Homo sapiens: one gene and its partners. The protein of the gene in region 4 interacts with the protein of the main gene of each other region in a pairwise test. Each region holds a gene or a part of one and is shown on either strand. Other genes may lie near its edges. The genes, in order: TCP10L, MYF5, RUBCN and TCEANC.

Region 1 (8,793 bases), on a different chromosome or scaffold from region 4:
TCCTGTCTTCAGGCAGAGTGAGCCTCTTCAAACCTCTCCCCTCCCTCCCTCCCTCCCTTCTTTCCTTCCTTCTTTCCTTCTTTCTCTCTCTCTCTTTCTTTCCTCTTTCTTTCTTTTTCTTTCTCTTTCTCCTTCCTTCCTCCCTCTCTCCCTCCCTACCTCTCTCTTTCTTTCTTTCTTTCTTCTTTCTCTTTCTTTCTTTCTTTATTTCTTTTTCCTTCTTTTTCAGACATTGTCTCACTCACTCACCCAGGCTGGAGTCCAGTGCCACAATCTCAGCTCACTGCGGCCTCTGCCTCCTGGGCTCAAGTGATCCTCCCACTCCAGTCTCCCGACTAGCTGATTTTGTCCCATGATTTTGTAGTATTTCAAGACCAGTATTATGAATATTAGTTTTCATTTTTCTGGCAACTATTTAGTTCTGGCTAACAGAGCACTGACTGGATAAGTATCAGGTCACAAAATATTTACCATGGGTTCATATGATGTGGTAAACTTGTGTCTTTCATGGGGGCTTTTAGCTAAAGCAGTAATTAGAGGTATTGTAAGATGAACCCCTTAGCTAATTGCAAGCTGTACCTGACGTCTCCCATGAAGACAAGCAGCCAGATCCTGAAATTCATGACTGATGACTTGTGAAAGTCTAACGCATATTCTGCAATGATGTGCCATGGGCCTCTGCCATTTCACCTCACCATCACGCCACAAATTAGTACTCACAGCTGAGAGTTTAGACCTAAAAGGGGCAATAAAATTGAGTTCAAATACTGTATTAAGGGACTTGCCCAAAATTACATAATTATTTTGTGTAAAGTCCAAATTATACAAATCCTCAGATTCCGAGGTCGGGGTTTCTTTTCCTGTAACATGTTCCTTCAAATATGGCTGTATCCATGTTTCATATCAAGCAGATCCGAGAAAAATTATGAATAATCAGATAGCATAATGTGGACACAGGGTCACGAGCAATAAAGGGTTCTTATAGAGCTATTAGGAAGAGCATGGTGCCTGCGAGCAGTAGGAAGATTGTTTTATGTATTTATTGGCCTTATAACTATGGTTTAGAAGTGGCAGGAACCCACAGAGGTATACCTACAGAAAGACTTAAAAGAAATAAAACTCCCAGCCTCAATGGGGTATCATGCCACCCTCAGTACCACTATCTCAATCTTAGGCTTCATACACATACCAAGAAACTTCCCACTTCTTTTAATACAAGAACTTTCAGATTTTAAAAATCTTCTCAGGATTCTCTCTCCTCTGTGACCTCTTCAGCAATGGTATTGGAAGTCATGGGTTGATGTTATCTGGCTGAGGGGTTTATCTAGAAATGTCTCCTGACTTCAGGTCTCTTTAGATGTAAGTTAGCTTCTTCCTCTGTCCGTACTCAGTCTCAGCTGGTCACTGACTATGTAATTTCCTTTCTAATCAGTTGGGTCCTACTGCAGAAACAAAATAACACAACGTAGAGTAAATACATTATTGGGATGGCTAGCAGTCATTGGGCATTTTTCTCTGTTCATTATCTTGAAGAGCATACTGTACTCCCTCAATTCATTTTAAACAAAAAAACTTTAGAATGTAATTAACGGAAATTCTCACTATTGTGGATTGAGTCGTTTTTATATGTTGCCTTACCACTTTGCTTAAAGGGGCAATGTCTTTCCTTATTCTCAACCTTTACGAAATATTGTACAGAGAACATTTTTAAAGAGTGTGTAATCCCAGCACTTTAAGAGGTTGAGACAGGTGGATCACTTGAGTCCAGAAGTTCGAGACCAGCCAGTGCAATATAGCGAGACCTGTCTCTACCAAAAATTCAAAAATTAGCTGGGTGTGGTGGTGTGAACCTGTAGTTCTAGCTACTAGGGAGGCTGAGGTGGGAGGATTGCTTGAGCCTAAGAGGTCAAGGTTGCAGTGAACCGAGATGGTGCCACTGCACTCCAGCCTAGGCAACAGAGCAAAACCTTGTCTCACAAGAAGAAGAAAAAAAAAAAAAGGAGTGTGTCACTTATAACATTCAGACTCAGCTCATAAAATCCAAAAGAAACATGGAGTTTTGAGTGTGCTGAAATGCACCACTGACGGGACAACTAGAAAATGAGTAGAAAATCTTTATCTGTTTTGTTTTTTTTTGAGATGGAGTCTCACTCTGCCGCCAGACTGGAGTGCAGTGGTGCCATCTTGGCTCACTGCAGCCTCCACCTCCCAGGTTCAACCAATTCTCCTGCCTCAGCCTCCCAAGTAGCTGGGACTACAGACGCGTGCCACCACACCCAGCTAATTTTTTTTATTTTTTTATTTTTAGCAGAGACAGGGTTTCACCATGTTGGCCAGGATGGTCTTGATCTCTTGACCTTGTGATCTGCCCACCTCAGCCTCCCAAAGTGCTGGGATTACAGGCGTGAGCCACCATGCCCGGCCGAAAATCTTTATCTTTTGGTTCTATCATTGTACACTACAGCTACTGGTAATAGTATTAAGGCATATTTTACAATTCATATTTGGATTCGATCACAGGGCTCACACTCTCTTATCTTCACCTCTCACAAGTTTTGCCATAAGAATTTTGTGGTAGTTTGAGGAACTCAACACAGCTGCAAGTATTTCGCTGGAATCTACTATGATCTGTGTCACTTGAGGCACAGAGTGAGCTCATGTCATTCTTTGGATGACATGCACCCCTCCCTAACTTATTCCGACATTTAGTCATCCAAGAATTCACTCAGCTCTGGTGGGGTGGGCTCCAATCTCAATGGCATCTCACCAGTTCCCAGGTCATATTGCCCATTTGCAGTGATGATATTTAGAAAAGGTGATTTCTTTTGTCAGGGTCTGTACCACTATAGAAGTAGTCCTTTGAACCAGAAATTTAAACACATAAGCTACTTTAAAAAGTGTATCTGCTGCTACTCCAAGCAGCCAGCTCAGGAACTGGCTTCTGATTTTAAAAGATGAGTGAAAGGTGTGCCGTGGTTTCCTCTACAGAATGTTCAGACCAGAGGGCCCTGGAAGACCATGCCTGAAATGCGGCTAAGGCACCGCGAGGCTGAACAGAAAACCGGGGCCTTATCAGAGAGAAGAGAAGGGCCCCACAGTCCAAACGCCCAGGAGCCTCCGCCCTGACCTGCTGCCGCACGTGGTTGCTGCAGGGTGAGAATCTGGGGAAGACTCAATGAAGAAAATGTCCTGGCCAGGCCGGGAAGAGCAACACACAGAGAGCCGCAGCAGAGACAGGGATGGGGGGACCCTGCCCTGGGAGCCGCCCGGCTGAGGCTCAGGAGGGGAGCTGCAAAGCCTGAAACCTACACAACCTCTCACACACTTCAGGACACACACAACCCCTCACGCACCTCAGGGACTCACACAACCTCTCACACACCTCAGGAAGCTACACAAACTCTCACACACCTCAGAAACCTACACAAACTCTCACACACCCCAGGGACTCACACAACCTCTCACACACCTCAGGACACACACAACCCCTCACATACCTCAGGAACCTACGCAAACTCTCACACACCTCAGGACACACACACAACCTCTCACACACCTCAGGACAAACACCCACTCACACACCCCAGGACCCAAGCACAACCCCTCACACACCTCAGGACACACACACAACCCCTCACACACCTCAGGAACCCATATAAGGAACCCACACACCTCAGGCTCATACACACAAGCCCTCACACACCTCAGGAATCCACACACAACCCCTCACACACCTCAGGGTCTCACACACAATGTTGACACACCTCAGGGTCTCATACACAAACCCTCACACACCTCAGGACCCACACAATTCATCACACTTCTCAGGACACACATAAAACCCCTCACACACCTCAGGGGCCCATACATAACCCCTCACACACCTCAGGACTCACACACAATCCTCTCACACACCTCAGGACTCACACAACCTCTCACACACCTTAGGACCCACACACAACCACTCACACACCTTAGGACCCACACACAACCTCTCACACACCTTAGGACCCACACACAACCACTCACACACCTTAGGACCCACACACAACCTCTCACACACCTCAGGGACCCACACACAACCACTCACACACCTCAGGACCCACACACACCTCATACACCTCAGGGACACACACAACCCCTCACATACCTCAGAAACCTATATAAACTCTCACACACTTCAGGACAAACATACAACCTCTCACGCACCTCAGGACACACACACACACACTCGCACACCTCAGGACACACACACACACTCTCACAGTTAGAATGACACATGGGGACAAAAGTGCCTTCTGTTTCCTCTTTGTAGTATTCTCTTCATTCATTCATGACGTCGGCATTTACTGCCTATTGCATGCGAATCGCTTGCAGAACTATCCAAGTGACACACGTCCCAAGCAGGCTCAGGTGAGCCCCAGGTGTATGTTGTCCACACGCAGCACCATGGATGAGAAGGACAGCCAGGGTTTAACAGGAATATCGACTCTTGCTTGCTCCTCATTCTCTTCTCTATCACAAAAATCACACGGACAATTCAGATGGAGATGCATTTAGTGAAATGATGAAACTTTGAATCCTGTCTCCTATTTAAACTCACATATATTATTTTCCCTTCATAAAAATGTTTTTTCTAGTAAATAATTTGATATCCGAAGAAAGTTTGTATTTCTCCAAGAATGTATGCTCAGAGAAATGAGCTCTTACTACACGTTGCGTATTGAAGACTGGATATAAAACACATGGTTTTTGTCAATTTGGAGGAGTAGTTTGACTCTCTCCAATGTCCTTTGTGGATGGATGGACTCCACTGACGATGAGCTTCTATATTAAGAATTGCAGGTTTGGGGATGTTTAATTATTATCTGAGCTGGTACAGTGGTGACGCTGAGTGAGACGTTCATGTCCCTTTAAGACAGAAAGTCCGTTGGAACTGTCCGCTGCTCTCTGGTCTCTGGATATGAGGCAGGAGGGCTTGGGGACAACTGTGGGGACATGGCCCAGATGATCTGATCCTGGCAGTAGTGACTGTTGGGGACCAGGTGAGGTGACGAGGTCTGGTGGTGGGGCTGAAGGAAAGGGTCTTCCCTGGACTGAGGGGGTCATGAGTTTGGGGCCGAGGACACTGGGGTGTCCCCTCAGAGGAGCAGGAAAGAAGGAGCTTTCTCAGGGCTGTGAGGACCGTGACCCCAGCCCACTTCCGCAGAAACATTCCCAGTCTCCGCGGGGAAGGAATGGCAGTGATCTGGTTACTGGTAGGTCTTGCTCTAGACCTTCGATTCGCTTCCATCAGGAGACTCTCTTTTAAATAGCATTTCTCCGATCACTGTGGTTAAACTGTTCCTTCTCACACAGTTAGAAGTTTATGAATTAAACAGTCGGGGTTTCGTTGGGGGCCACTGGCTTCCTAAAACGGACAGGGCAAGGCAGGGGTGGAGGCAGCTTTCAGAGACGACCCTGCAGGCTTGCAGGAAAGCTTTGCGTTTTTCTCTTTCGTTTTTGTTCTCTAATTGCTGTGAACTTCCTAGAACTGGCATAAATGCTGTACCTATAAAAAGGTGTTTCCTTTCCACATCTTCACCATGAATTCACAAATGTCACCCTGATGGTTCAAGACACATACTCAACACGGTGGAGGGTCTGCCTGTGCCCCTCCAGGTGGGTGCTGATTAAAGGGCTGAGAATTCCCTCGGTGTCTCATGCGACCCTCCACTCACACCTGCTCACACCCTGAGACCATTCCACTCACACCTGCTCATACCCCAAGACCATCGTGCTCACATCCGCTCACATCCATTCACATTCCGCTCATATCCTGCTCACAACCCACTCACATCCCACTCACACCGGCTCACACCCCACTCACACCCCTCTTTGGATGACTGGAGTGTGTTAGGTGTCAGGCTGATCTTCTAGGATCTAAAGCATTTTCCACGGAGGATGGTGGAGAGCCAGGTGTGGACAGCTCAGTCCCTCTGTCTGTGGTGTCCTTTCACCTGGTCAGCTTCGGGCCTGGGAATGTGCACATGACCCAGGGGGAGAAGGAGCGGCTGCGGGTCCTGCTCACCCTTAGTTTGGGGCTGGGGCCTTCAGCCCACACTGACGGGGTAGGAGGGCTGCATTCAAGTGTCCCCATAGCCCTTCCCTTCCCAACCAGGATGCTGGCAGGTCAACTCGAGGCCAGGGACCCCAAAGAGGGCACCCACCCAGAGGACCCGTGCCCAGGAGCTGGGGCTGTCATGGAGAAGACAGCTGTGGCAGCCGAGGTTCTCACGGAGGACTGCAACACTGGGGAGATGCCAGTGAGTTGAGCTCTGTGGGGACAGAGTTAGTCCCACCAGGCGGGACCCTGATTCCTGTCCCTGAGGCCCGTCATTGGACTTTCCCTTGCTGGACCCCTGTAGGAATGCACCACCCCGGGACACTGATTCTGTACTTCCTCTCCAAGGGGCATGTGGCTCTTTCCCCCTCTGCAACCGTATCTCTTGGTGGATGGGAGGCAGGGCAGGGAGTTAAAGAAAATATTAACATTCCAGCTTTTCTCCTCTAATCCAGGAGAAGGCACCAGACTTTAAAAACTTCATTAAAGAAAATCAGAAAGTTGACATGCCTCACATCATCCCAGCAAGTTTCCTGATTTTTACCATCTTCCTCATTGGACCCTGTTGGACAGTGCTTGCTGTCATTAAAGTCCCACGGGTCCCTGTGGCCAGGGCCACCCAGTGCAGGACTGTACCTTTATCACGATCCCACTTATTCTCAGAGCAAGGCTGGAGGCTCTACGATCCAGTGAAGGATCCCAGGGGAAGGCTAACATGTTAGGTTGAAAATGCAGTGGCTTCCATAATTTTTTTTTTTTTTTTTTTTTTTTTTTGAGACGGAGTCTCGCTCTGTCGCCCAGGCTGGAGTGCAGTGGCGGGATCTCGGCTCACTGCAAGCTCCGCCTCCCGGGTTCACGCCATTCTCCTGCCTCAGCCTCCCACGTAGCTGGGACTACAGGCGCCCGCCACTACGCCCGGCTAATTTTTTGTATTTTTAGTAGAGACGGGGTTTCACCGTGTTAGCCGGGATGGTCTCGATCTCCTGACCTCGTGATCCGCCCGCCTCGGCCTCCCAAAGTGCTGGGATTACAGGCGTGAGCCACCGCGCCCGGCCGGCTTCCATAATTTTTAAACTATTGACCATATATCCATGCCAGTACAGCCTTTGAGACCAGTCTGGCCAACATGGTAAAACCCTGTCTCTACTAACAATAGAAAAATTAGCCAGGTGTGGTGGCATGTGCCTGTAATCCCAACTACTCTGGATGCTGAGGCACCAGAGTTGCTTGAATCTGGGAAGTGGAGGTTGCAGTGAGCTGAGACTGCGCCACTGCACTCCAGCCTGGGTGACAGAGAAAGACACTGTCTCAAAAAAAAAAAAAAAAAAAAAAAAAAAAGGAAAAGAATGCCAGCCTCTTTTTGCTGTAGTAGTGTTTTAACAAAAAAATCATAATTCACTAACCATCTTTATCTGGTTATATTATGTGGACTAACTCATAATAAACACTACTTAATAAGAATAAAGCTATGGCCAGGCATGGTAGCTTATTCCTGTAATCCCAGCACTTTGGGAGGCCGAGGCAGGTGGATTGCTTGAGCCCAGGAGTTTGAGACCAGTCTGGGCAACATGGTGAACCCCCATCCCGAGTAAAAATACAAAAATTAGCGAAGTATGGTGGCACATGCCTGTAGTCCCAGCTATTTGGGAGGTCGAGACAGGAGGATCGCTTGAGCTCATCAAGTTGAAGCTTCAGTGAGCTGAGATCATGCCACTGCACTCCAGCCTGAGTGACTGAGTGAGACCCTGAAAAAAGAAAAGAAAAGAAAGAAAGAAAGGAAAGAAAGAAGAAAGAAAAAGGCTGTGGTAGTCCTGTTTATCTCATCGGGTGTCTTTTATTCCAGAAATAGTGTTGGTCTTACATCAGAGAGGGCTTGAGTATTTTGCAGATAAATGTGCCCATTGTGACATCTGAGAGGTTTTTCTGGTGTTCTCTTCCCAATAACAGCCATTACAGCAGCAGATCATCAGACTCCACCAAGAGCTTGGGAGACAGAAGTCTCTGTGGGCTGATGTTCATGGAAAACTCCGGAGTCATATAGATGCTTTGAGGGAGCAGAACATGGAGCTCCGAGAAAAGCTGAGAGCTCTGCAGCTGCAGCGGTGGAAAGCCAGGAAGAAATCTGCAGCGTCCCCACACGCGGGGCAAGAATCGCACACTCTGGTACCAAAAGCGCATTTATGTTTTTGTACCGTTTGCGTTATGTAAAAATAGCGTCCCCATAAAGATGTGGGCTTTATTGCTGAATGACGCGGTATCACTCACGCTCCGGGTGGTGGGAGGGGTTGCTATCTTTCCATCAACTCCATTTCCCGTAAGTAATGATTAATAAGAACTGGATACATCAGGCCTCTCACCTGGCACTCCAGCAGACAGAAGCATTGCCGCCCCCAGGCCGTGTGTCTCAAGTCCAGAATTCTAAGACATCTCATGATGTCTCAGGACAACAGCAGCAAACCCTTACTGTGGACTTTACATGGGCTAGGTACGGAGCTTTACGGTCTTACTCTCTATGACGACCCTATGAAATGGATCCTATTACTAACCCCATCGTGGCCACGGGCTGGAGAACGTAGAGCTGGGATTTGAACCCAGGGTGACTCCAGAGCCAGCTCAGTAGCCTGGTGTCCTTCTGTTCATCCTCTAGGACAGCTGTGTAGAATGCAATAGAGACCTGTTGAAACGGGAAA
Region 2 (9,514 bases), on a different chromosome or scaffold from region 4:
CCTTTCCTTGCTCTGGCTGGGGAAAATATTGACAACAATGAGAACAAAAGCAACATAAATGAGCCATTCTTAGTATTTAAATATTAACTCATAATCCTACAACAGATGAGAGAGGTACTGCGAAGATCCTTGGAACAGAGTTTCCTGCACTTGGTTAAGTACTGCATAGAGCCAGGATTCAGAGCCAGGCAATTATCAGTGGATTCAAGCCTGTGTTCTTAACCATCATGCTCTGTGAAACAGATGCCTTGGCACATTGTTAATTTCTTTCTTTCCTCCTTTTTTTTTTCTTTTTAAGGGGTGATGTGTCCCTGTTGCCCAGGCTTGAACTCCTGGATTCAAGTGATCCTCCAGCCTCAGCCTTTCAGGTAGCTGGGACTACAGGCCCATACCACTGAGCCCAGCTTGCCTTGGGAAATTAATAAGCAACATTTTATGGTCTGGGGAAAAATTTGGCTCTCCTTGGCGTTTGTTTTCTAAAAGCTCTCTCTCAAGAGTGGCTAGCTACCGAACTCCAAATTAGAGCAGTAACTTAAAAAAATAAGTGGTAAAGCATTTCAAATTATCCAACCAAAACATGTGTGAATATGTCTGGGTAGTGTCTATGCCCATTAATTATGCTTATTAGATGCCCATCATTTTCTCCCTGAGAATCAATAGGGATTTTCCCCAAATTGTATATATGCACACTTCTATTTTTAAAATTCAAATTTATTATGCAACACAAAATAATGTAACTGATTAGGTGAACTCATTTAATTTATAATTTAGCCTATACTTATAGTAAGATCTGTGTTATAAATGGCTCAACAGCAGAATGCTTTTATTAATTCGTGGACTTTACTTGTTGATGGATTTTATTCAGTCTTTGCAAGCCAAATCCTCTCTATCTCTCTTAGCTGGGTAACTTGAGAAATTGTTTGGAATAAGTTTGCCTATAGAAGTCTCTTCATTAAATAGAGCAAATATTTCCCAAAGACTTCATGTGACCTCCACTGCTACAGATGACATGTTAGGCTTTCCAGTGAAATCCTTGGTGTGTTTGCAATTAAAATGTTTTTGTTTGATATTAATGATGATAATCTTTACTGAGGCCAAAGCCAAAATAAACAGGGCTGTGGAAGCAGATAATCAAGACATAATAACTTGGTAAAGATAAGCAATTTGGGATTAAATTCAAGCCTCTTTCCAGAGGCAGGTATAAAGTTATCAAGTACAAAATAATGAGTGATTTTCTTTATTATATTACTACAGAAATAATTTGCAGAAAATCAAATGCCAGCTTTCATACTAATTTTAATACCTGGATCACTGAATTCCAAGCCTGAACACTGGAAATCCTCTTAGGTCTAACAGTCTCATTTATTTTTCCTCAAACTCTTGCATTTGTTTTGGGAGTGGAGGGAATGCTGGAATTTAGGGTTTGCAACTATTTCTGAAACTAGCAGAGAAATCTTGAGATGCTGAAAGTGATCTCTATCCTTATTAAGACTTTTTTTTTTTTTACTAAAGTTAGAATTTACCCAGTTGTGTTTTTCTTCTAGTAATATTTTATCCCATTTTGTCGTTTCAAAATCGCTCTCCCACAACACCATAGCTGGAATTTTTTTTGACATTTTTTTTAAGCTTTGAATATCTAATTGCCTAATCCAATGCATTGATAAATTATCAATAACATAGTATTTTCTCAAAGAGCCAAACCACCAAGCTATTTCTCTGACAGGCCCCTCCAGTCACTCCCTTAAACTATTACACTTATAAAAGATGATCCTCCATCATAGAGGTTTCACTCTGAAAAAAGCAATTTTTTTGCAAGCCTAGTTCAGAGTCAGTCTGAGATGGAATGGCTATGCCATGTGCTGGAACAAAGATAATGCTGTAAGAACTGGCTACTTTCTGTACTCTCAAGGCTGCTAAATGTCCTTACTTAGGCCTTTGATCTCTCCTGGAAGTCCTCTAATTCAAGCAGAGGCCAATGTCTTCCTCAGCTGTCTTCACAAATTCTTCCAGCAGCTCTGGCAGGTACTAATGTGTTTACTTAGGTGTGCCTGATTCCCAGAGCTAATAGCAATTTGCAATTGTTGAGCACATTGTGAAGTCATCTATAATATAAAAAATATCAAGAACAACTCCCTTAGTCCAGGAGTTGATAAGGATCTGCAGGCAGGGGCAGAAGTGAATTGGAATGTATGTATCCTTCTATATGTATTTGGTTTCTCCCTCCAAGAAAAGCATAGAGAATTTTCAATAATGCAGAAAGCCTAGGGTGGGCAAAATTTATTAGAAGAAGAAGGTATGAGCATCATTTTGCTGGTGTGATCTGTCCATCAATATTAGTGTGTTGCCATAATGCTTAAACTAACACAGATTTCACTTAAAAAAAAAGTTGATGTTACGTAAAGGTCATTGCAGTTAGAACCTGGTTATAATTCTAAATTGTAAGAAAATCAAATGTATTTATTTTTTCAGAATATAAAATGAAATAAATAAATAAATAAATACTTCACCAGAGCCTTAGTGGGTATCCATTTATAGCACCAGAGGTGACTGGGTTTTCTTCCCCTCAACTACCTATGGTTAGACTTTCCTAGCAGACAGTGTTGGAGTGTCATTTCTAATAACCTGTTTACATATGAAATAAATGTGCGTTTTCTCCGCAAGCAAGAAATCCACTTCTTTGCAGAAATAGTGGAAAACTTATTTTCATTCTTTGTGTGAGGAGCAAAAGCCAATCTAATCCGACTTTGAGTACAAAAGGGTGCCCTGAGTAGATCTTTTCAGAGCCATTTTTAAAACTTTTCCCATGCTTCCCTGGCCAACCCACTCAAAAAAAAAAAATGCTTTTCTCTATGTTGCTCACCCAGTTCTTTCTTTTTCCCCTTCCAGGTCTCCCCTGGGAAAAGAGCAGGGAGACCGCTCCTGAATTGGGACACTGTAGCCATCTTTGTGGTGCTGGCTGCCTACTGTCTTAGCATATTGCCTTTTTTTTTTCTCTCTCTCTCTCTCTCTCTTTCTTCTCTCGCCCCTGACAGCGTTTTAAAAGTTTTGTCTTATTTCTTTTTACTTTGGTACTCTGAGATCCTATTTTCAGCACTTGCGTCCCAAGGGCTCTCAAGTCCGGACCCTGTTCTCCTGCTAGCAAGTCCCATTAAGCCGCCGGGCGCTTGTGTTTTCTCGGCTTCTTTAGTTCCACTCGCTCGCGGCACTCTGGTAACTTTGTTTTGAGATCACCTTACCAGAGACAGCTCTAACCTCTGAGAACTACCCTTACTGACAGAGGCTCCTGAGTGACGGCGTCTTCCCAGGCACAGGAGCCAGGGAAAGATGTTGAGTAGCCAGCTTTTGCGAGTTTCTGCTCTGGAGCCCTAAGGAAGCGCACGGAGCCTAAATTAATTGAAGAAGAAAACAAACAAAATCACCTCTAGGAGTAGGAACTATAATGACAGGATGCCTAGTTTCCAATCCTGTATGACCTTGGGGCAAATAACCTAGTCCCTGGAGCTCGAGTTTACTTTCTTTCTACAATGGGCCCAATAATAGCTCCCACAGGGTGGTTTGGAGTATTAATTGTTAAGTTAATCTAAGGAAAGGGTTGAGAACAGTGCGGGGCAAATAGAAAATTCTCAATAATTGTTAGTTAAAAATATTTCGCGCTGAGGGGCTTGAGTACAAATCACGTTAAGTGCTTTCAGAAATTAGCTGAAAGATGAGCAGAAGCGTAACCTCTAACTTTCACTCAAACTTTAAAGACCAAGTTTATTTGTGTCCAAAGCACAAGTCCGAGCTAATTTGTGGACTCCACAGCCAAAAAAATAAAAAAGTGGTCATATGGCTGCTAATAGAAACTGTGGGACTTGGCTGAGAATTCCTGGGGGAGGATATCTACCCACTATTGTATTTCAGAGGTAGCAATGTGCTTTGCATTTGCTGTGCATTTGAATGTTTCCACCAGCGTGGATGGCATCTTAGTTTCCACCTGGGTTCTTCTTGAACTTGCCTCTTTTTATCTGGCGTAGCCCTGGATACCGTATTCATTTCAAAGGCATAGACTTGTTAATAGCCCTAAAAAAGGTGCAGATGGATTTCCCACTGGTCAGATGATTAAGCAGCCCATTGGTGTGAGAGGGAACCTGATTTTCAGGAGAGATCTTTTTCTTAGAGATGACAGGACAGAAGAGAGGAGACAGCAATGGTGTGGCTAGCAAACCTTAGTGACTGACAGTGTCACTCTCCCACCTCTGGTTTTCAAGGTCTTCACTTTAGAGAGATCGCACCCTGAAAAGGTTGCTACTTCTCTGGCCCCTGAAGATGCTGGATCAATGAACCAGTGTTGCTTTAAGAAAATAATTCTGAAAAAAAAGTACAAAGTACCATTCACTGAAAGAAATAATAATAATAATAGGAAGGAAAACTCCCTCCTCCTCGCAATAACTTCGGAGCCACTATATTTATTGAACTGGGTTACCCTAGATTGAGTTGAGAACACTCCTGCTTCTTTCAACGGGGCCACAAGACCTAGTCCAAAACCCCAAGACTAATTGTGTAGACCTTAAGTAATTGCTTTTCCTAAATATAAACAGCACCTCCCCAACCCAAATAACCTGAAAGTGGATTAAGGTTGGAGGAGGATTGGTAAAAGCTGATTAATAGATTCATTCCCACTTAAATGACAACCCTCCCCTCTTGCCTTCTATCCATCGAAGTTCTAAAGACCCTGCTGTGATTGCTTTTCTGGAAGGCTTTTGTCACTGAAGTGTGTGAAGTTACTCCTGGTTTGAGGAGTTGGAAATTTTACACGAGTCAAGGATTGCAGTGGCGGCAGCTGGGACGCATCTGTAACGGTGTTAGTTTGCCTGAAAGCAGAAAATTAGCAACCCCAAAGCCCAGCTTGGCTGTTTAGTCTGTAGAAATGACAGGGCGGAGCAGAAAGAGAGGGAGAAAGGAGACTCACCCCTGGAAAGGGAGTTTGCCGTCGAAAACTGGGCTTCTTCTGTTGGAAATCTTAGAGACACTTTCAGTGCAGGTCTTTGGCCTGCTCAGGATCTAGGGAAGGCCTGGCACAAAGGAGAAGGTGCTCAACAAATACGTACAGAAGGGGAAAATGAAGGAAGCAAGAACGGGAGGAATGTTCCTGGTCACCTGGCCCTCCTGTGCCCCACCTCCTTTTAGATGAGCAGACATACAGGGAGAACTCAGAGCAAGCCCAGTCATGGGAAAAGGAACCTCCCTCCCTACTCTCAATAAGGTAGAGCCTAGAATAAATGACAATCTGAGCAAAACTTTACTCATCTGAAGCTATACAAAATAGATTTGGAAAGGCAAACCCTGTATTCACTCCAAGATTGAAAATGCCACTTCAAGTTTTTAGTAACCGTTATTCAATCCAATTGCTGGAAAAAGTTTTCGAGATAATTGAAGTTCATGAAAAAGAGAAACAAACACCCCCAAATCAGGTGATTCCTCACGCCCAGGATTGGGAGGGCAGGTCGGCTCTTGGTGCCAGCTGAAAGGGATTTCTATTTATTACCACTATTTTAAAATGTGTGTCCAATTGCAAAAAGTTGGACTGCCTTGGTCACTTTTGTGTGAAACACTCCTTAAGTGATCCCTTGTTTTAGCCTATCTAGAGAGTGCAAATGAGCAGGTTGGGGACCCACTGCCGCCCCAGCAGAAATACAGTAAAACCATTAGCGTCAAAAGGGGCAGTACACAGCAGATTGTCTGTAGAGGAAAGGCGGAGGTTTGTCCAGACAGCCCCCGCGGGGGTTGCGGTGGGATATGCTAATAGTGCCTGGCCACTGGGGCCGGCCTCCCTCCCGAAAGAATATATAAAGAACCCCAACCCCAGCTTGTCTACCCAGGCCAACAGGCGTCTGCCCTTGTTAATTACCGGAGCGACAGACTAGGGAGCTCCGCCCGGGATTTGCCCATCGGCGGAGGCGCCAGGCTCCCGTTTCTCCCCATCCCTCTCGCTGCCGTCCAGGTGCACCGCCTGCCTCTCAGCAGGATGGACGTGATGGATGGCTGCCAGTTCTCACCTTCTGAGTACTTCTACGACGGCTCCTGCATACCGTCCCCCGAGGGTGAATTTGGGGACGAGTTTGTGCCGCGAGTGGCTGCCTTCGGAGCGCACAAAGCAGAGCTGCAGGGCTCAGATGAGGACGAGCACGTGCGAGCGCCTACCGGCCACCACCAGGCTGGTCACTGCCTCATGTGGGCCTGCAAAGCCTGCAAGAGGAAGTCCACCACCATGGATCGGCGGAAGGCAGCCACTATGCGCGAGCGGAGGCGCCTGAAGAAGGTCAACCAGGCTTTCGAAACCCTCAAGAGGTGTACCACGACCAACCCCAACCAGAGGCTGCCCAAGGTGGAGATCCTCAGGAATGCCATCCGCTACATCGAGAGCCTGCAGGAGTTGCTGAGAGAGCAGGTGGAGAACTACTATAGCCTGCCGGGACAGAGCTGCTCGGAGCCCACCAGCCCCACCTCCAACTGCTCTGATGGCATGGTAAGCAATAGATCTGGTACCTGCTAGGCTACCCTAATCTTTTCTAAAGTCCTTACACCTCATTTAACCTGGTGTGGTGGGGAGAGTGGGGTGGAGGCAGATGCTGAGTTGCTTTAAAAGAAGAGAGGGGTCCACATTTAGAAAGACTCCCCAAACCGCTGCTGAACAAGATTTTAGTTTAACTTTCTAGCAGGTTCTAGGTGTACACTGTAATCGAGTGTTGACATGGAAGATGGGTGGCTGTGAATGATCACTCAGATGTTTTCTCCATTCCTGAATTTATTTTCAAAATATGCCATCTGTGGATCATGCCCTACGCTAATATCTAAAGGCACCGTTTCTAACTTAATGAGGAAATGGAAAGAAATACCCACACGGCCCCAGTTCCTGCTCCAATGAGGCCTGGCTGAAAGATGTTGATGCATTCTTTTTAGAGGGCGTTTGCTCCAAGGCTGCCAGGTTTTAATGTGTTTTTGCCCTGGGAAAGTGTTCTTTCCCTGAATTAGTGTGGCTTTCTTCTACTCCAATCCATTTTGCATGGTTAACCCAATGCACATTGCTGCTGAATTCCACCCCCTCTTCCCTTTGCTGCTGCTCTCCTCTTCTTCAAGCACAGAGATTGACCTCAGTGCCCTGGGAATTTGGAGAGGGCTAGCCCTTCCTAAATCAAGGCAGTGAAGGTGATTGACAGTGTTCGGTTACAGAGCTGGTGGGCAAGCACAGCCTCACCTTTGGTCAGAACATCTTTTGCCAAGACCTGAAAACAAACTTTGTTGTGTGTCTTGTATTATAGCCCGAATGTAACAGTCCTGTCTGGTCCAGAAAGAGCAGTACTTTTGACAGCATCTACTGTCCTGATGTATCAAATGGTAAGAATTGATAACTTCACAGGAGTTTAAAGACCAGTTCAACCTAACAATTCAGCCTATAAGATTCTGTTCTTGCTGATAGTATTGGGGAAGGGAGAATGGAAGTGATGGTTCTTATAGGGAGGCTTTGGTAAAGCAAAATAAACACATCTTCTGCTCCAAATCCCCCTAGCAGACACGCACGCACACATGCATACACACATGCACACACAATGTTGCTTGAAATATTATCAGGGGGCTTCCCCACTCCCCACGTCTACCCCTCAGGAATTGCCAGATATTTGTTGCAAATTTCTATGTTAGGCTTTCTGTGACCACCTGACCTCTGGGTGTCAGAGGAGCTGACCTACAATTTAAGGAGCAACATAAGCAAATCTGTCTATCTTGGGCTAATTATTTTTTAATGCTTTTCTCCTTGTATCCTTAGTATATGCCACAGATAAAAACTCCTTATCCAGCTTGGATTGCTTATCCAACATAGTGGACCGGATCACCTCCTCAGAGCAACCTGGGTTGCCTCTCCAGGATCTGGCTTCTCTCTCTCCAGTTGCCAGCACCGATTCACAGCCTGCAACTCCAGGGGCTTCTAGTTCCAGGCTTATCTATCATGTGCTATGAACTAATTTTCTGGTCTATATGACTTCTTCCAGGAGGGCCTAATACACAGGAAGAAGAAGGCTTCAAAAAGTCCCAAACCAAGACAACATGTACATAAAGATTTCTTTTCAGTTGTAAATTTGTAAAGATTACCTTGCCACTTTATAAGAAAGTGTATTTAACTAAAAAGTCATCATTGCAAATAATACTTTCTTCTTCTTTATTATTCTTTGCTTAGATATTAATACATAGTTCCAGTAATACTATTTCTGATAGGGGGCCATTGATTGAGGGTAGCTTGTTGCAATGCTTAACTTATATATACATATATATATATTATAAATATTGCTCATCAAAATGTCTCTGGTGTTTAGAGCTTTATTTTTTTCTTTAAAACATTAAAACAGCTGAGAATCAGTTAAATGGAATTTTAAATATATTTAACTATTTCTTTTCTCTTTAATCCTTTAGTTATATTGTATTAAATAAAAATATAATACTGCCTAATGTATATATTTTGATCTTTTCTTGTAAGAAATGTATCTTTTAAATGTAAGCACAAAATAGTACTTTGTGGATCATTTCAAGATATAAGAAATTTTGGAAATTCCACCATAAATAAAATTTTTTACTACAAGAAATATTTTGGCTCATGATCTTTTAAAATAACACCCCAATGGAATTACTGTTCATTGACATGAAATCTTTACATGTGAGCTGAAAATACTTAAACAGTTGGCTTTTCAGATAAGTCTGAATATTTACCATTCTCATGTACCCAGTTTAGGTCCTGTTGATGTCACAAGTGAAAATGTCATATTTTCATTTTAAATATATTTCAAGTGAACCTGCTAAATGAAACTTTTCCTTTATCTTAGAACTGTACCATATACTATCAAGTCGTTTGTGTGTGAAGGGAAGATAGAGGTTATTCAGGACAGTAACACATGCTTTTTTAAAAAAGACTATACAACATCACATCATTTTAATAACTATAGTACAACAGAAGGCATGAGTTAAATCATATTTACTTTTACTACCTGCCTGAAAATATCTTGATAATATATACTAATATTGTCAATAAAATATTTAAAGGTATTGGGCTGATTTTTTTTATATTGCTAGAGTGCCAACATAAGAAAACTTACACAAATTATACTGAAGTGAGACAGACTTGAGTTTTCTTCCTTCTTTTTACAGCCTTTTAAACTTTATTGTATTAATCATATCATGTATGCGTGTGTGTGCATGTGTGTATGTAAAACAGACTTGTCTCATATTCATCACCCTAAATCTCCTCTAGAAAGAACTGATATGAAAAAATTGAACAATTAAGTGGAAAATTAGGTTGAGACAATGATTGGGATAATTATCACAAGTTTACCATTGAGAGAGATTTTAAAAAGAGATTCTTAAAGTATCTAAAGTAGCTATTCACAGAGAACAAATATTGATAATTGTTTAATCCTCTTATATGTACATTGATTTAAAATTCCTAAGGATTTGTGGTTACATACATTAATTTAAAAAAAGCATACAG
Region 3 (9,002 bases), on a different chromosome or scaffold from region 4:
ACTGCACTCCAGCCTGGGTGACAAAGCGAGACTCCGTCTCAAAAAAAAAGAAAAAGCACACATTTTTATCCACCGTTCGTGGCTGGCAAGTGTTCCTATATAGTTTTTTGGGGTTTTTTTTTTTTGAGATGGAGTCTTGCTCTGTTGCAGTGGTGCAATCTCTGGAGTGCAGTGGTGCGATCTCAGCTCACTGCAATGTCCACCTCCTGGGTTCAAGGGATTCTCCTGCCTCAGCCTCCCAGGTAGCTGGGATTACAGGCGCCCACCACCATGCCTGGCGAATTTTTAGTAGAGACAGGATTTCACCATGTTAGCCAGGCTGTTCTTGAACTCCTGACCTCAAGTGATCCTCCCACCTCGGCCTCCCAAGGTGCTGGGATTACAGGCATGAGCCACTGTGCCCAGCCAGTTCCTATATAATTGAATAAATGAACCACTACTAAGTGCTTAGAGGGGATGGAAATGTTGCTATAAAGACAGAATAAAAGCTAAGTAATTAAAACTTGGCAAAATTCTTCAAAAGCTTTTAAAATCATCTCATCAGATGAACTACTATAAGCTTTATATATGCCTAACAGAAAAAGAATTTTGGTAAATCAGTAAATTTGGTAAAGTCAGTGAATTGGTCATTTGGCAAAATTGGCTTAAAAGACTTTTAGAAATGCTACCTATGGGGAAAACATAAATTAATTTTAAACTGTCTTTAAAGTTAATCATTACAAGATTAAAAATTTCCATGTGAAACACTAAAATTTTTGTTATATTTAGCAGGATACAGTCATAAGAAAACAAAACCATACTAAGATCATTGACTATTTTTTTAGGTCCCCATGAAAGCAGAACCTTGACTATTTTTTAAACTTGCAAATGTAGAGAAAAGTTGCAAAAATAGTGCAATGAATACCCATATATCCTCTACTTCGCCAATTAATGTTTTGCCACATTTGCTTTCTCTCTGTATAGAGGTATTAGTTGTTGTTAGACAATTTGAGAGAAAGTTGCAGGAATTATGACTCTTTAGAATCTATTTCTAAGGGCTGTGTGCAGTGGCTCACACGTGTAATCCCAGCACTTTGGGAGGCTGAGGTGGGCAGGTCACTTGAGGTCAGAAGTTCGAGACCAGCCTGGCCAACATGATGAAACCCCGTCTCTACTAAAAATATAAAAACTAACTGGGCGTGGTGTTGGGCACCTGTAATCCCAGCTACTCGGGAGGCTGAGGCAGGAGAATTGCTTGAACCCAGGAGGCACAGGTTGCAGTGAGCTGAGATTGTGCCACTGCACTCCAGCCTGGGCAACACAGCAAGACTCTGTCTCAAAAAAAAAAGAAAGAGAATATATTTCTAGGGATATTCCTTAACATAACCATGCTAAAATTACCAAGTTTAGAAAATTTAACATTGATGCTGTACTATTATCCAATTATGGTTCATGTTCAAATTTTGCCAATTATACTACAAAATTTCTTTTTCTTTTTCTTTTTTTTTAAGATGGAGTCTTGCCTTGTTGCCCAGGATGGAGTGCAATGGCATGACCTCAGCTCACTGCAACCTCCGCCTCCCAGGTTAAAGAGATTCTCCTGGCTCAGCCTCCCGAGTAGCTGGGATTACAGGCGTCTGCCACCATTCCCAGCTAATTTTTTGTATTTTGTATTTTCAGTGGATCCATGATCCAGCCTGAGTGACAGAGCGAGACTCCATCTCAAAAGAAAAAAAAACAAAAGAAGGGGTTCAGGATTATGAGGGAAAGTAGAGGGATGGGATAGGTAACGCATGGCTAGTGCAGATTATTGTCATGTTTATTAATGGCTTTAAAGAAAATCCAGTACATGTAACTTGAACTTGGACATATGAGAAAAAGCCTGTTTTCCAGCCTTTTTGCTACAATTTTAGTTTTTGGATTTCTTTTTTTTCTCCCCAAGACAGTCTCACTCTGTCACCCAGGGTGGAGTGCAGTGGTACAATCTCAGCTCACTGCAACCTCTACCTCACGGGTTCAAACGATTCTCATGCCTCAGCCACCCAAGTAGCTGGGATTACAGGCGTGTGCCACTACACCCGACTATTTTTTCTTTGTATTTTTAGTAGAGACAGAGTTTCACTATGTTGGCCAGGCTGGTTTCGAACTCCTGGTGTCAAGTGACCCGCCTGCCTGGGCCTCCCAGTGTTGAGATTACAGGCGTGAGCCACCGCTTCTGGCCCCTAGGATTTCCTGATAAAGCTGATTGCCTTTTTTTTTGAAACGGAGTCTCCCTCTGTCGCCCAGGTCTAGCTCTGTCTTCCAGGCTGGAGTGCAGTGGCGTGATCTCTGCTCACTGCAAGCTCCGCCTCCCGGGTTCATCACGCCATTCTCCTGCCTCAGCCTCCGGAGTAGCTGGGACTACAGGCGCCCGCCACCACGCCCGGCTAATTTTTTGTTGTATTTTTAGTAGAGACGGGGTTTCACCGTGTCAGCCAGGATAGTCTCCATCTCCTGACCTCGTGATCTGCCCGCCTTGACCTCCCAAAGTGCTGGGATTACAGGCATGAGCCACCACGCCCGGCCTTTTTTTTTTTTTCTTTTTTCAGACGAAGTCTTGCTCTTATCGCCCAGGCTGGAGTGCAGTAGCACGATCTCGGCTCACTGCAAGCCCTGCCTCCTGGGTTCAAGCCATTCTCCTGCCTCAGCCTCCTGAGTAGCTGGGATTACAGGCGTCTGCCACCATGCCCGGCTAATTTTTTTGTATTTTTTAGTACGCCTGTAATCCCAGCACTTTGGGAGGCCGAAGCCGGCGGATCACCTGAGGTCGGGAGTTCAAGACCGGCCTGACCAACATGGAGAAACCTTGTCCCTACTAAAAAATACAAAATTAGCCGGGCGTGGTGGCGGATGCCTGTAATCCCAGCTGCTCAGGAGGCTGAGGCAGGAGAATCGCTTGAACCCGATCGCGCCATTGCACTCCAGTCTAGCCAACAAGAGTGAAACTCTGTCTCAAAAATAAATAAATAAATAATATAGTGTTAATTTGGGATTATACTGTATGCCAAAAAATAAAGTTCATACATTTATAGAACTAGAAGTAAGGCCAGGTATGGTGCCTCATGCCTGTAATCCCAATACTTTTTGGGTGACTGAGGCAGGAGGACTGCTTGAGCCCAGGAATTTGAGACCAGCTTAGGCAGCACAGTGAGACCCTGTCTCTACCAAAAATTAAAAAAAAAAAAACAAATTAGCTGGGCATAGTGGCACTGCCTGTGGTCCCAGCTACTTGGGAAGCTGAGGTGAGAGGATCCGCTTGAGGAGGTTGAGGCTGCAGTGAACTGTGGCAGCGCTACTGCACCCCAGCCTGGGTGACAGAGCAAGACTGCGTCTCCAAAAGAGAAGAAAGTCACAGAAGGAAGAGAAATCCCAATGAGTAATATTGCCCCTTTCTTAAAGAAGTATAATCGTTTAGTAGGAAAATGAGAAAGTTTGAAAGAGAGTATTTTTTTAACCTAAATGAAATCATAAATGGCTTCAAGAGGCTCTTTCATTTCATTTTTAATTGCCAAAACACTTTTGTCAAGTTTGAAAATACCTAAAAGCCATATATTATTTTAATATAGAGTCATTAGTTTTTCACGGAGTTATTCTTGATCGCTCTTTCTCCCTCACTTGCCACAGTCAGTCCTTTATAGAGTAGTGCTGATTCTGTTGCCTTCACATTGCTGTAATCTGAGCCTCCTTGTTCTCTTCAACCGCTGCTGTAGTTTAAGCCTGGGTTTGCAAACTAGCAACTCAAGGGCCACCTTCAGCCTACAGACAAGCTGTGTTTGGCCTGTGCAAAGTTGAAAGTTTAAAAAATTTGTTGCCAACGTTTAAAAATTTGGAAGTAGTGCTTAAAAATGCAGATCCTAGCTTCTTTTAAAAAATCAAAATATCATAGCTAGGTGTGGTGGCTCGCACCTGTAGTCCCAGCTATTCAGGAGGCTGAGGAAGGAGGACTGCTTGAGCCCAGGAGTTCCAGGCTGCAGGGAGCTATGATTGCGCCACTGCACCCCAGCCTGGGCGACAGAGAGAGACCCCGTCTTTGAAAAAGAAAAAAGAGAAACCAGAGTATCTGGCAACCCTAGGCCCACGTTTCTTTCAACTGGTTCGCTTCACTTCTTAGCATTACTTGGTTATCCCCCATAAGGATGACCAGTCTCCTATCTAGCCTTCCACCGTTACCTCAATATAGTATTATATCTGCCCCATCTCCTGTCCACATTGTCAAAAGTGGCTTTCTCATCAGATTCGATCAAATCACTTCTTGATTTGCATATGCTTGATTTGCTGATTGTTTTCAGGATAAAATCCAAACTCCTTAAAATGGCATTTCATGATCTGGTTTCCCCACACCAGAATGCCCACACCATGCTGCTGCTCACTCCTTCCCAGCTCTGGCTACCCAGCACCTGCAGTTCCCAAGCCAGCACTTCCTTCCTTGTATCTGCCGTGTTGCTCTCTCCACCTTCTCTTCTTTCTCCTGGCTAACCCGTACTCAGCCTTGAAAACTCTGCGTTGACATCCATCTTCCGAGAGCCCCCAGAAGCCTTTCTCTCCTGCTCTTTTATGATCCCAAAGCAACCTGTGCTCTTGTTTGTGAGCGCTTCATTTAAATGCTCGAGGTCTCCAAACACCACCAGCGGACATTAAGCCAGGGCGGGCTGAGTGGGGTTAATCGTACCGGGATTAGATTAGCGTTATTGCCTAGTCTACATCTCGGACTGAGTTCGGTCCCCAGCGTGTAATGTCACGGGGGTGAATAAGGATACGCCCCGGCACGGATTCCTGAGACCAAGGTCCCCCGCCGCTTGCAAGCCGGCCCAGCCAACCACCGGGTGCGTAGTAATCCACGAGCGCGGCCTGGGATTGGAGGGCGCGGCCTGCGGGAGCGGCCTGGGATTGGAGGGCGCGGCTTGCGGGAGCGGCCTGCCGTTGGAGGGGCGCGGTCTGCGAGCGCGGCCTGGGATTGGAGGACGCGTCCTGCGGGAGCGGCCTAGCCTCGGAGTGCTCGCCGGGGGCTGTAGTCCCCGGAGCCGGAAGTGGGGGTGGCCGGGATAGAAGCCGCAGCCCAGGCGGCGGTCCCTCCCGCTGTCGCCGCCCGGGTGTAGCGCATCACCCGGAGCCCACCGGCCGCAGGTGCCTCCTCCGGCCCCAGGGGGCCCCGGGAGCCCTGAAGGGCGAAGCGGCAGGGACGCCTCTCTTGGGCGAAGAGGCGGCCTCACCGCCCCGGATGCGGCCGGAGGGCGCGGGAATGGAGCTCGGAGGCGGCGAGGAGCGCCTGCCTGAGGAGAGCAGGTGGGCTGGGAGCCGCCGCGGAGTCGGGGCAGCGACAGGCGCCGGAGCCCCGGGAGGCTTGGGAGGGCGCGGGGTCACGGAGAGAAGGGCCGGGCGCGACGAGTCTTGAGGACGACGGCTGCGGAGGACTTGTTTGGGAAGCATTTCGCAGAGGAAGGACGGGCGGGGCGGGGATGGGACGAAGGAACCGGCTTAGGGTGAGGAGGGTGGGTGGGATTTGCGGAGGGCAAGGGCAGCAGAGGAGGGTGAAGCTCAGATCCAAGACTGCTGGAGAGGAGGTGGCAGCTGAGAGACTGGGCGAAGAGGCCAGAGGGGTGCAGTGAGGTTTTACAGGCCAGAGTCTATAGACAGGGGCAGGGCACCACCCGGACTGAAACTTGCCGTGACAGCAAGTGGGGCCAACGCGAAGAGGATGTGAGAATTCCTGGGAGCAGAGGTGAAGCGTTATGAGTGGCCTCGGAAGAAGCTTAGGCAGAGATGAGCATGGGGATGAAGGCGAGGAGAGCCTGGGGAGAAAGTGAGCGAGTGTCATGGCAGTGCGGTGGGGCGGGGACTGCTAATGAGACCAGAAACTCTGCACTTTGTCATTGCCGAATCCCTGTCAGAGAGTGGCAGGACCTCTGTGCCATTTCCTTTTCGTCTTCAAACCTGTCCCTTTTTCCTCACAATGCAAACTAAGCAAGTTCACATTTATTTATATGGAACCATGTCAGAAAGCTCATATCTTCTAGAAATTGGGGGATTTAAAATATAAAAACTACTTTGGACCGGGTGCGGTGCCTCACACCTGTAATTCCAGCACCTTGGGGGAGGCTGAGGCGGGTCGCTTGAGTCCAGGAGTTTGAGACCAGCCTGGGTAACCTAGGGAGATCCCCGTCTCTACAAAAATACAAAAATTAGCTCGGCGTGGTGGTGCTCACCTGTGGTGCCAGCTACTCGGGAGGCTGAGGCGAGAGGATCACTTGAGTCCAATAAGTCGAGGCTGCATTGAGCCGAGATCGCACCACTACACTCCAGCCTGGGTGACAGAGGAAGACCCTGTCTTCAAAAAACAAAAAGCCAAAGAAACCCCGAACTACTTTGACTAAATGATGAATCGGAGTCTGTAGAGATGCCTTCCATATTTAGGGTTTGCTTCATTAATAACTCTGGTCTTAATCTTTTTTAAAGAGGCTGGAATGCTGACAGGCGAGAGCAGGAATGTGGCTTAAGGGAGTCATACTTGACATTTATTATTTTATTTTTATTTTATTTTTTGAGACACAGCCTCACCCTGTCCCCCAGGCTGAGCGCAGTGCCGTGAACACGGCTCACTGCAGCCTCCAACTCTTGGGCTCAAGCGATTATACTAGCTCAGCTTCCCAAGTAGCTGGGGATATAGGTGCCAGCTACCACATCTGGCTACTTTAAAAAACTTTTTTGTAGAGACAGGGTCTCACCATATTGCCCAGGCTGGTCTCTAACTCCTGGGCTCAAGCAATTCTCCCCCGCCACGTCGGCCTCCCAAAGTGCTGGAATTAACAGGTGTGAGCCACCAGGCCTGACCTCACTTGACATTTAGAAACAGTTTCAGATATAATGATGGTCTCAGGAGCAGCTGGGATCCAAAAACTAGAAGCAGAATATTTACCTCTGAGAAAATATCAACAAGGGAAGATTTATGAGATGTTCCTGGGTGAAGACTTGCTATTTTTAAGGGTGACTCTACTTTTATGTGCAAAGTGGCCTGTTGAACAAAACCTGGACTGACAGGACTTTGGGGCTCCTGCCTGAGATCTGAGAATGATTTGTGCTAAGTGAAACTGAACATCTTACTTCCCTTTTCCATGTTTCAGTTTCTGCTTTGCCTATTTGACTATTTATTCTTCCTGCAGATGTCTGTGACGTGCTTCGTGTGAAAGGTCCCATGTAAATTCTAAACACGTTTTAGGATTGTTTTGATTTCCCTCTACCACTTCATGTGAGGGAGGCTGGGTTAGTTATTTTTTTAATGTATGTAACAAATGCTATTTACCACATGCCAGGAATTGTTTTAAGGTATTAAGATATGAATACTGCGTTAACTTCTTTAATCCCTATAACTATTGTATGTGGTCGGTACTACTGTTATTGCTGTGTCACAGATGAGAAAGCTGAGAAATGGACAGGGTAAGTAACTTGCCAAGGTTGTACAGCGAATCCCTGGCAGAACTGGATTCAAACCCAGGCAGTTCGGCACCAGAGTCTGCGCTTTTTTTTTTTTTTCTTTTTTTAGACAGGGTCTCACTATGTTGCCTAGGCTGGTCTCAAACTCCTGGGCTCAAGATATTCTCCAGCCTCGGCCTCTCAAAAGTGCTGAGGTTACAGGCATGAGCGACCATGCCGGCCCAAGAGACTGCACTTTTTTTTTTTTTTTTTTGAGATAGAGTCTTGCTCTGTCGCCAAGGCTGGAGTGCAGTGGCACCGTCTTGCTTCACTACAACCTCTGCCTCCCAGGTTCAAACAATTCTCCTGCCTCAGCCTCCCAAGTAGCTGGGATTACAGGTGCCCGCCACCACGCCCAGCTAATTTTTTGTATTTTTAGTAGAGACGGGGTTTCGCCATGTTGGCCAGGCTGGTCTCAAACTCCTGACCTCAGAGGATCTACCAGCCTCCGCCTCCCAAAGTGCTGGGATTACAAGCGTGAACCACCGTGCCCGGCCCGAGTCTGTACTTTTAATACTCACCCTATGCTGCCTCTCACTATGCTAATAGTAACAACGGAAGTATAAGATAGTGAATAAATTTCACAGCATTCTGTGCCTGTCATTCAGGCCAGTAGGATAGCTCCTTTGCAGAATCTTTTCCCGTCTTTTATTCTTTTTATGATTGCCTCTTAACCAAAAAACTTTAATCAAAACTTAATTTTAGTAGTGGGGTTATCCTCACAAAGTCACTCCCGTCATTGTTATAGGCATACTGTGTTGGCGGCTGATTAATTCAGAATGCGTTGTTTAATGAGGCTTCATGGTACTGATGGCCTCCTTAGCTCCAGATACACAACTGGTAAATACACATTCCTTGTGCCTATTAATTGAGGCTTTGTGACTGGGTTACTGCAAACATAACCTTTCTATGGCCAATGAAATACCCAGTTCAGAAACAGTCTTCTTGATGAGATAGCATCATTTTTATTTATTTATTTATATATTTTAAAGATAGGGTCTCACTGTGTCACTCAGGCTGGAGTACAATAGTGCAATCGTAGCTCACTGCAGCCTCAAACTCCTGGGCTCAGGTGATCTTCCCACCTCAGCCTCCTCAGTAGCTAGGACTACAGGTGTGTGCCACCACTCCCAGCTAATTTTTAATTTTTTCAGATTTTTTGTAGTGACAGAGTCTCACCATGTTGCCTAGGCCAGTCTCAAACTCCTGGCCTCAAGGGATCTTGCTGCCTTGGCCTCCCAGAGCACTGGGATTACAAGCATGAGCCACTGTGCCCAGCCGGTAGTGTCATTTTAAAAATGAAGGATGAAACTTTTCAGTGTATTTTCCTTAAGTAGTTGATATAATGAAACGTGAATAAGCTTTAAAGTCAGACCTGCATTTGAATCCTAGTTCACGGATTAATTTGGCTTAACTTGATCAAGTTACTTTACGTAACCTGCCTGAGTAGGAAGAATAATGCTTTCCTGCCTGAGAAGTTCTGAGGATTCAATAAAACAATGTGCATAAAGCTCCTG
Region 4 (2,769 bases):
CCTTTATTCAAAGAACATCAAAAAATATAAAACTTGCATCAGAAGCAAAGTTGCCAATTTGAAGAACCCCAGAAATTCTCATTTACAACAAAACTTGCTCTCTGGGACCACGTCTCCACGAGAATTTGCTGAAATGACTGTCATGGAGATGGCAAATAAGGAACTGAAGCAGTTGAGAGCCTCCTACACGGAATCTTGTATCCAGGAACATTACCTTCCCCAAGTAATTGATGGCACACAGACAAATAAAATAAAATGCAGACGCTGTGAGAAATACAATTGCAAAGTCACTGTAATTGACAGAGGAACACTTTTCCTTCCCAGCTGGGTGCGGAATTCAAACCCAGATGAACAAATGATGACTTACGTAATTTGTAACGAATGTGGGGAGCAGTGGTACCATAGCAAGTGGGTGTGCTGGTAACTGTAAATCAGTGTTCTCTTAACAGATAACCGGAGTGATACCTTTTATTTGTACAACCCTTTTGTGCTTTTAAAAATCTTATACACACTACTCTCTAAAACAGAAAAAGGAGGAAAGAAAGTCGTTAGCTGAAGCTGCCACCACCATCCCTAAAAGTTACAGTTTGGGGAGAGGGAGTGGATGACTATTTATATTGTGCCTTGTGGCCATTTAGTACCTTACTGTAGACAGAGTGTGGGTGAGAACAGCCCAGCATAAACTGGGAGACTGTGGGAAATGCATTCCCAGGCCTCACACCATTGAATCCGAATCTGCATTTTGACAGGATCCCCAGGTAATCTTCCAGGATAGGATAGTTTGAGAAGTGCTACTTTAGCAATAGGCCTGTGGCTCTCAGCAGTGGCTGCATATTAAAATCATCTGGGAAGCTTTGAAAACCCACTGGTGCTGAGACCCCACCCTAGAACAATTCAGTTGGAACCTATGAGATGGGACCCAGGCATCAACATTTCTTTTTTCATTCCTCAAGTTATTTTAAGATGCAGTCAGAGTTGAGAACTACTCAGAAATAGGCTCTCATTTGATCCTTTTTACAGCTCTAAGACAAGAATGTTATTCCAGGCACTTCACGAATGAGGAAACAGGTCCACAGAGGTGTGGTGACATGTCCAAGTGACACAACCATAAATAGTACCAATTCTGACAGATCCCAGATTTTCTCCCTCCTGACTCACTGAGACTGGCTCAATATCGACTTCTGAGAAATGTATTCCTGGAGGTCGGGGACAAAATGAAGAATGTGTTTAAACTCCAACATTGGGTGACTAGATCTTCATTCTTTTCCCCTCTCTTTTCTCATTTATAGGTCTCCCTTCAACCACAAAAGTCACCCTGGAACTCATCCCGCAGTTAGAATTTTGTTTGGAGCCCTCTTGCTTAGTTGAAGGAGTTTCGTAGTTGTTTTTTGTTTTTGTTTTTGTTTTTGTTTTTTCCCCCTGTGAACAGGTTTTTCGGGGGTATGTAAACTCTAGGATGTTTAGTTTCTGATGTCAGGAGTCTTCATGTTCTCAAGGACAAGTGTCCTTGAGATGGACATTAATGGTCATTAGTCTGTCAGAGGAAGCCCATCACTTTAGCCTTTGAATGTAGTAACAGACGTTTATCTAATAAATGAATTGAAGATAAAATTACCTCTTTGAGGCCTTTGCAAACAGTGTTTAACCAGTTTATATAATTGTTTGACTACAACACGCCTTCTATGTGATTATGGCTGATTTTTTTTCCTTAAAAAACTCATGGAATGTTCACCGTTTTATAGTTTTAAAAAGTTTACTTTGGCGGTCTCTACAAACCTACCATTTCACTTTCTCACCAGTTCTTTTCTCCTAACTCTCTTCCTTTGTTGGAGCTCTGAAGGCCTAACTGTGTGTACACTTTACCTGCCTGACAGAATTCTCCAAAACATGCATAAAAGTAAAATATGTTCGTATTTTCAAATAATTTGGAAGAGTCGGCTCAATGCCATCAAGTGTAAAATCTATTTTGATATACTTGCTCTCCGTGTCTTCCCAGGGCTGCTTTTTGTGATGCAACATGTTTAGTCCTTAACTTGCAAGGTCATCTAAAACTTGAAGTTTCACAAAGTGTGGTTTCATATGACTTGGAATAATCTGAAAAACTATTCAGTGGTTACGAAAGAGCACAGCACATAAAAACCAAATTTGATTAGTTCAAGTCGGTGTTTATGTTTTGCTTTGGGGGTTTGTGTGTATGTGTGTAGTTTTTATTTATATTGGAATTTGGCAAACTAAATGTTCAGACAAATAAAAGTAATTAAAATGGAAATTTCCTTACTCTCCAAAATATAAAAACCTTCATGGTCTGGCCGGGTGCGGTGGCTCATGCTTGTAATCCCAGCATTTTGGGAGGCCGAGGCGGGCGGATTGCCTGAGGTCAGGAGTTCAAGACCAGCCTGGCCAATATGGTGAAACCCCGTCTCTACTAAAAATACAAAAATTAGCTGTGCATGATGGCGGGTGCCTGTAATCCCAGCTACTCGGGAGGCTGAGGCCGGAGAATCACTTGAACCCAGAAGGCAGAGGTTGCGGTGAGCCAAGATCACGCCATTGCATTCCAGCCTGGGCAACGAGAGAAACTCCACCTCAAGCAAACAAACAAAAAAACCAATCTGCGTGGTCTTCCTCATTTCATTTCATCTTTATTCGTGAGTTTTGCAACTTGAGATAGGAAAATAGTAATCTGTGTGTTTTTCTTTTGGTTAATGAGACAGCATTACATTTTCTGCCTATAGGTAATTCTTTCAGATCCTATGTCCTTTCCCCTAA

The links.
Region 1: the proteins of TCEANC (region 4) and TCP10L interact in binary tests that used the Homo sapiens proteins (3 or more experiments, as listed by UniProt).
Region 2: the proteins of TCEANC (region 4) and MYF5 interact in binary tests that used the Homo sapiens proteins (3 or more experiments, as listed by UniProt).
Region 3: the proteins of TCEANC (region 4) and RUBCN interact in binary tests that used the Homo sapiens proteins (3 or more experiments, as listed by UniProt).

What each region holds. Positions count from the first base shown.
Region 1 is NC_000021.9:32,581,673-32,590,465, reverse strand, and holds the start of TCP10L (T-complex protein 10A homolog 1), read left to right. Parts: upstream 1-4,942; 5' UTR 4,943-5,045; intron 5,046-6,160; 5' UTR 6,161-6,161; coding exon 6,162-6,305; intron 6,306-8,050; coding exon 8,051-8,266; intron 8,267-8,793. Other genes in the region: CFAP298-TCP10L (uncharacterized protein LOC110091775), read left to right, coding at 8,051-8,266. UniProt on the Homo sapiens protein: May be involved in transcriptional regulation. Has in vitro transcription inhibition activity. Acts as a tumor suppressor in hepatocellular carcinoma (HCC) cells.
Region 2 is NC_000012.12:80,711,057-80,720,570, forward strand, and holds MYF5 (myogenic factor 5), read left to right. Parts: upstream 1-5,855; 5' UTR 5,856-6,007; coding exon 6,008-6,508; intron 6,509-7,301; coding exon 7,302-7,377; intron 7,378-7,804; coding exon 7,805-7,995; 3' UTR 7,996-8,615; downstream 8,616-9,514.
Region 3 is NC_000003.12:197,732,954-197,741,955, reverse strand, and holds the start of RUBCN (run domain Beclin-1-interacting and cysteine-rich domain-containing protein), read left to right. Parts: upstream 1-5,051; 5' UTR 5,052-5,236; coding exon 5,237-5,301; intron 5,302-9,002.
Region 4 is NC_000023.11:13,663,141-13,665,909, forward strand, and holds the end of TCEANC (transcription elongation factor A N-terminal and central domain-containing protein), read left to right. Parts: coding exon 1-424; 3' UTR 425-2,269; downstream 2,270-2,769.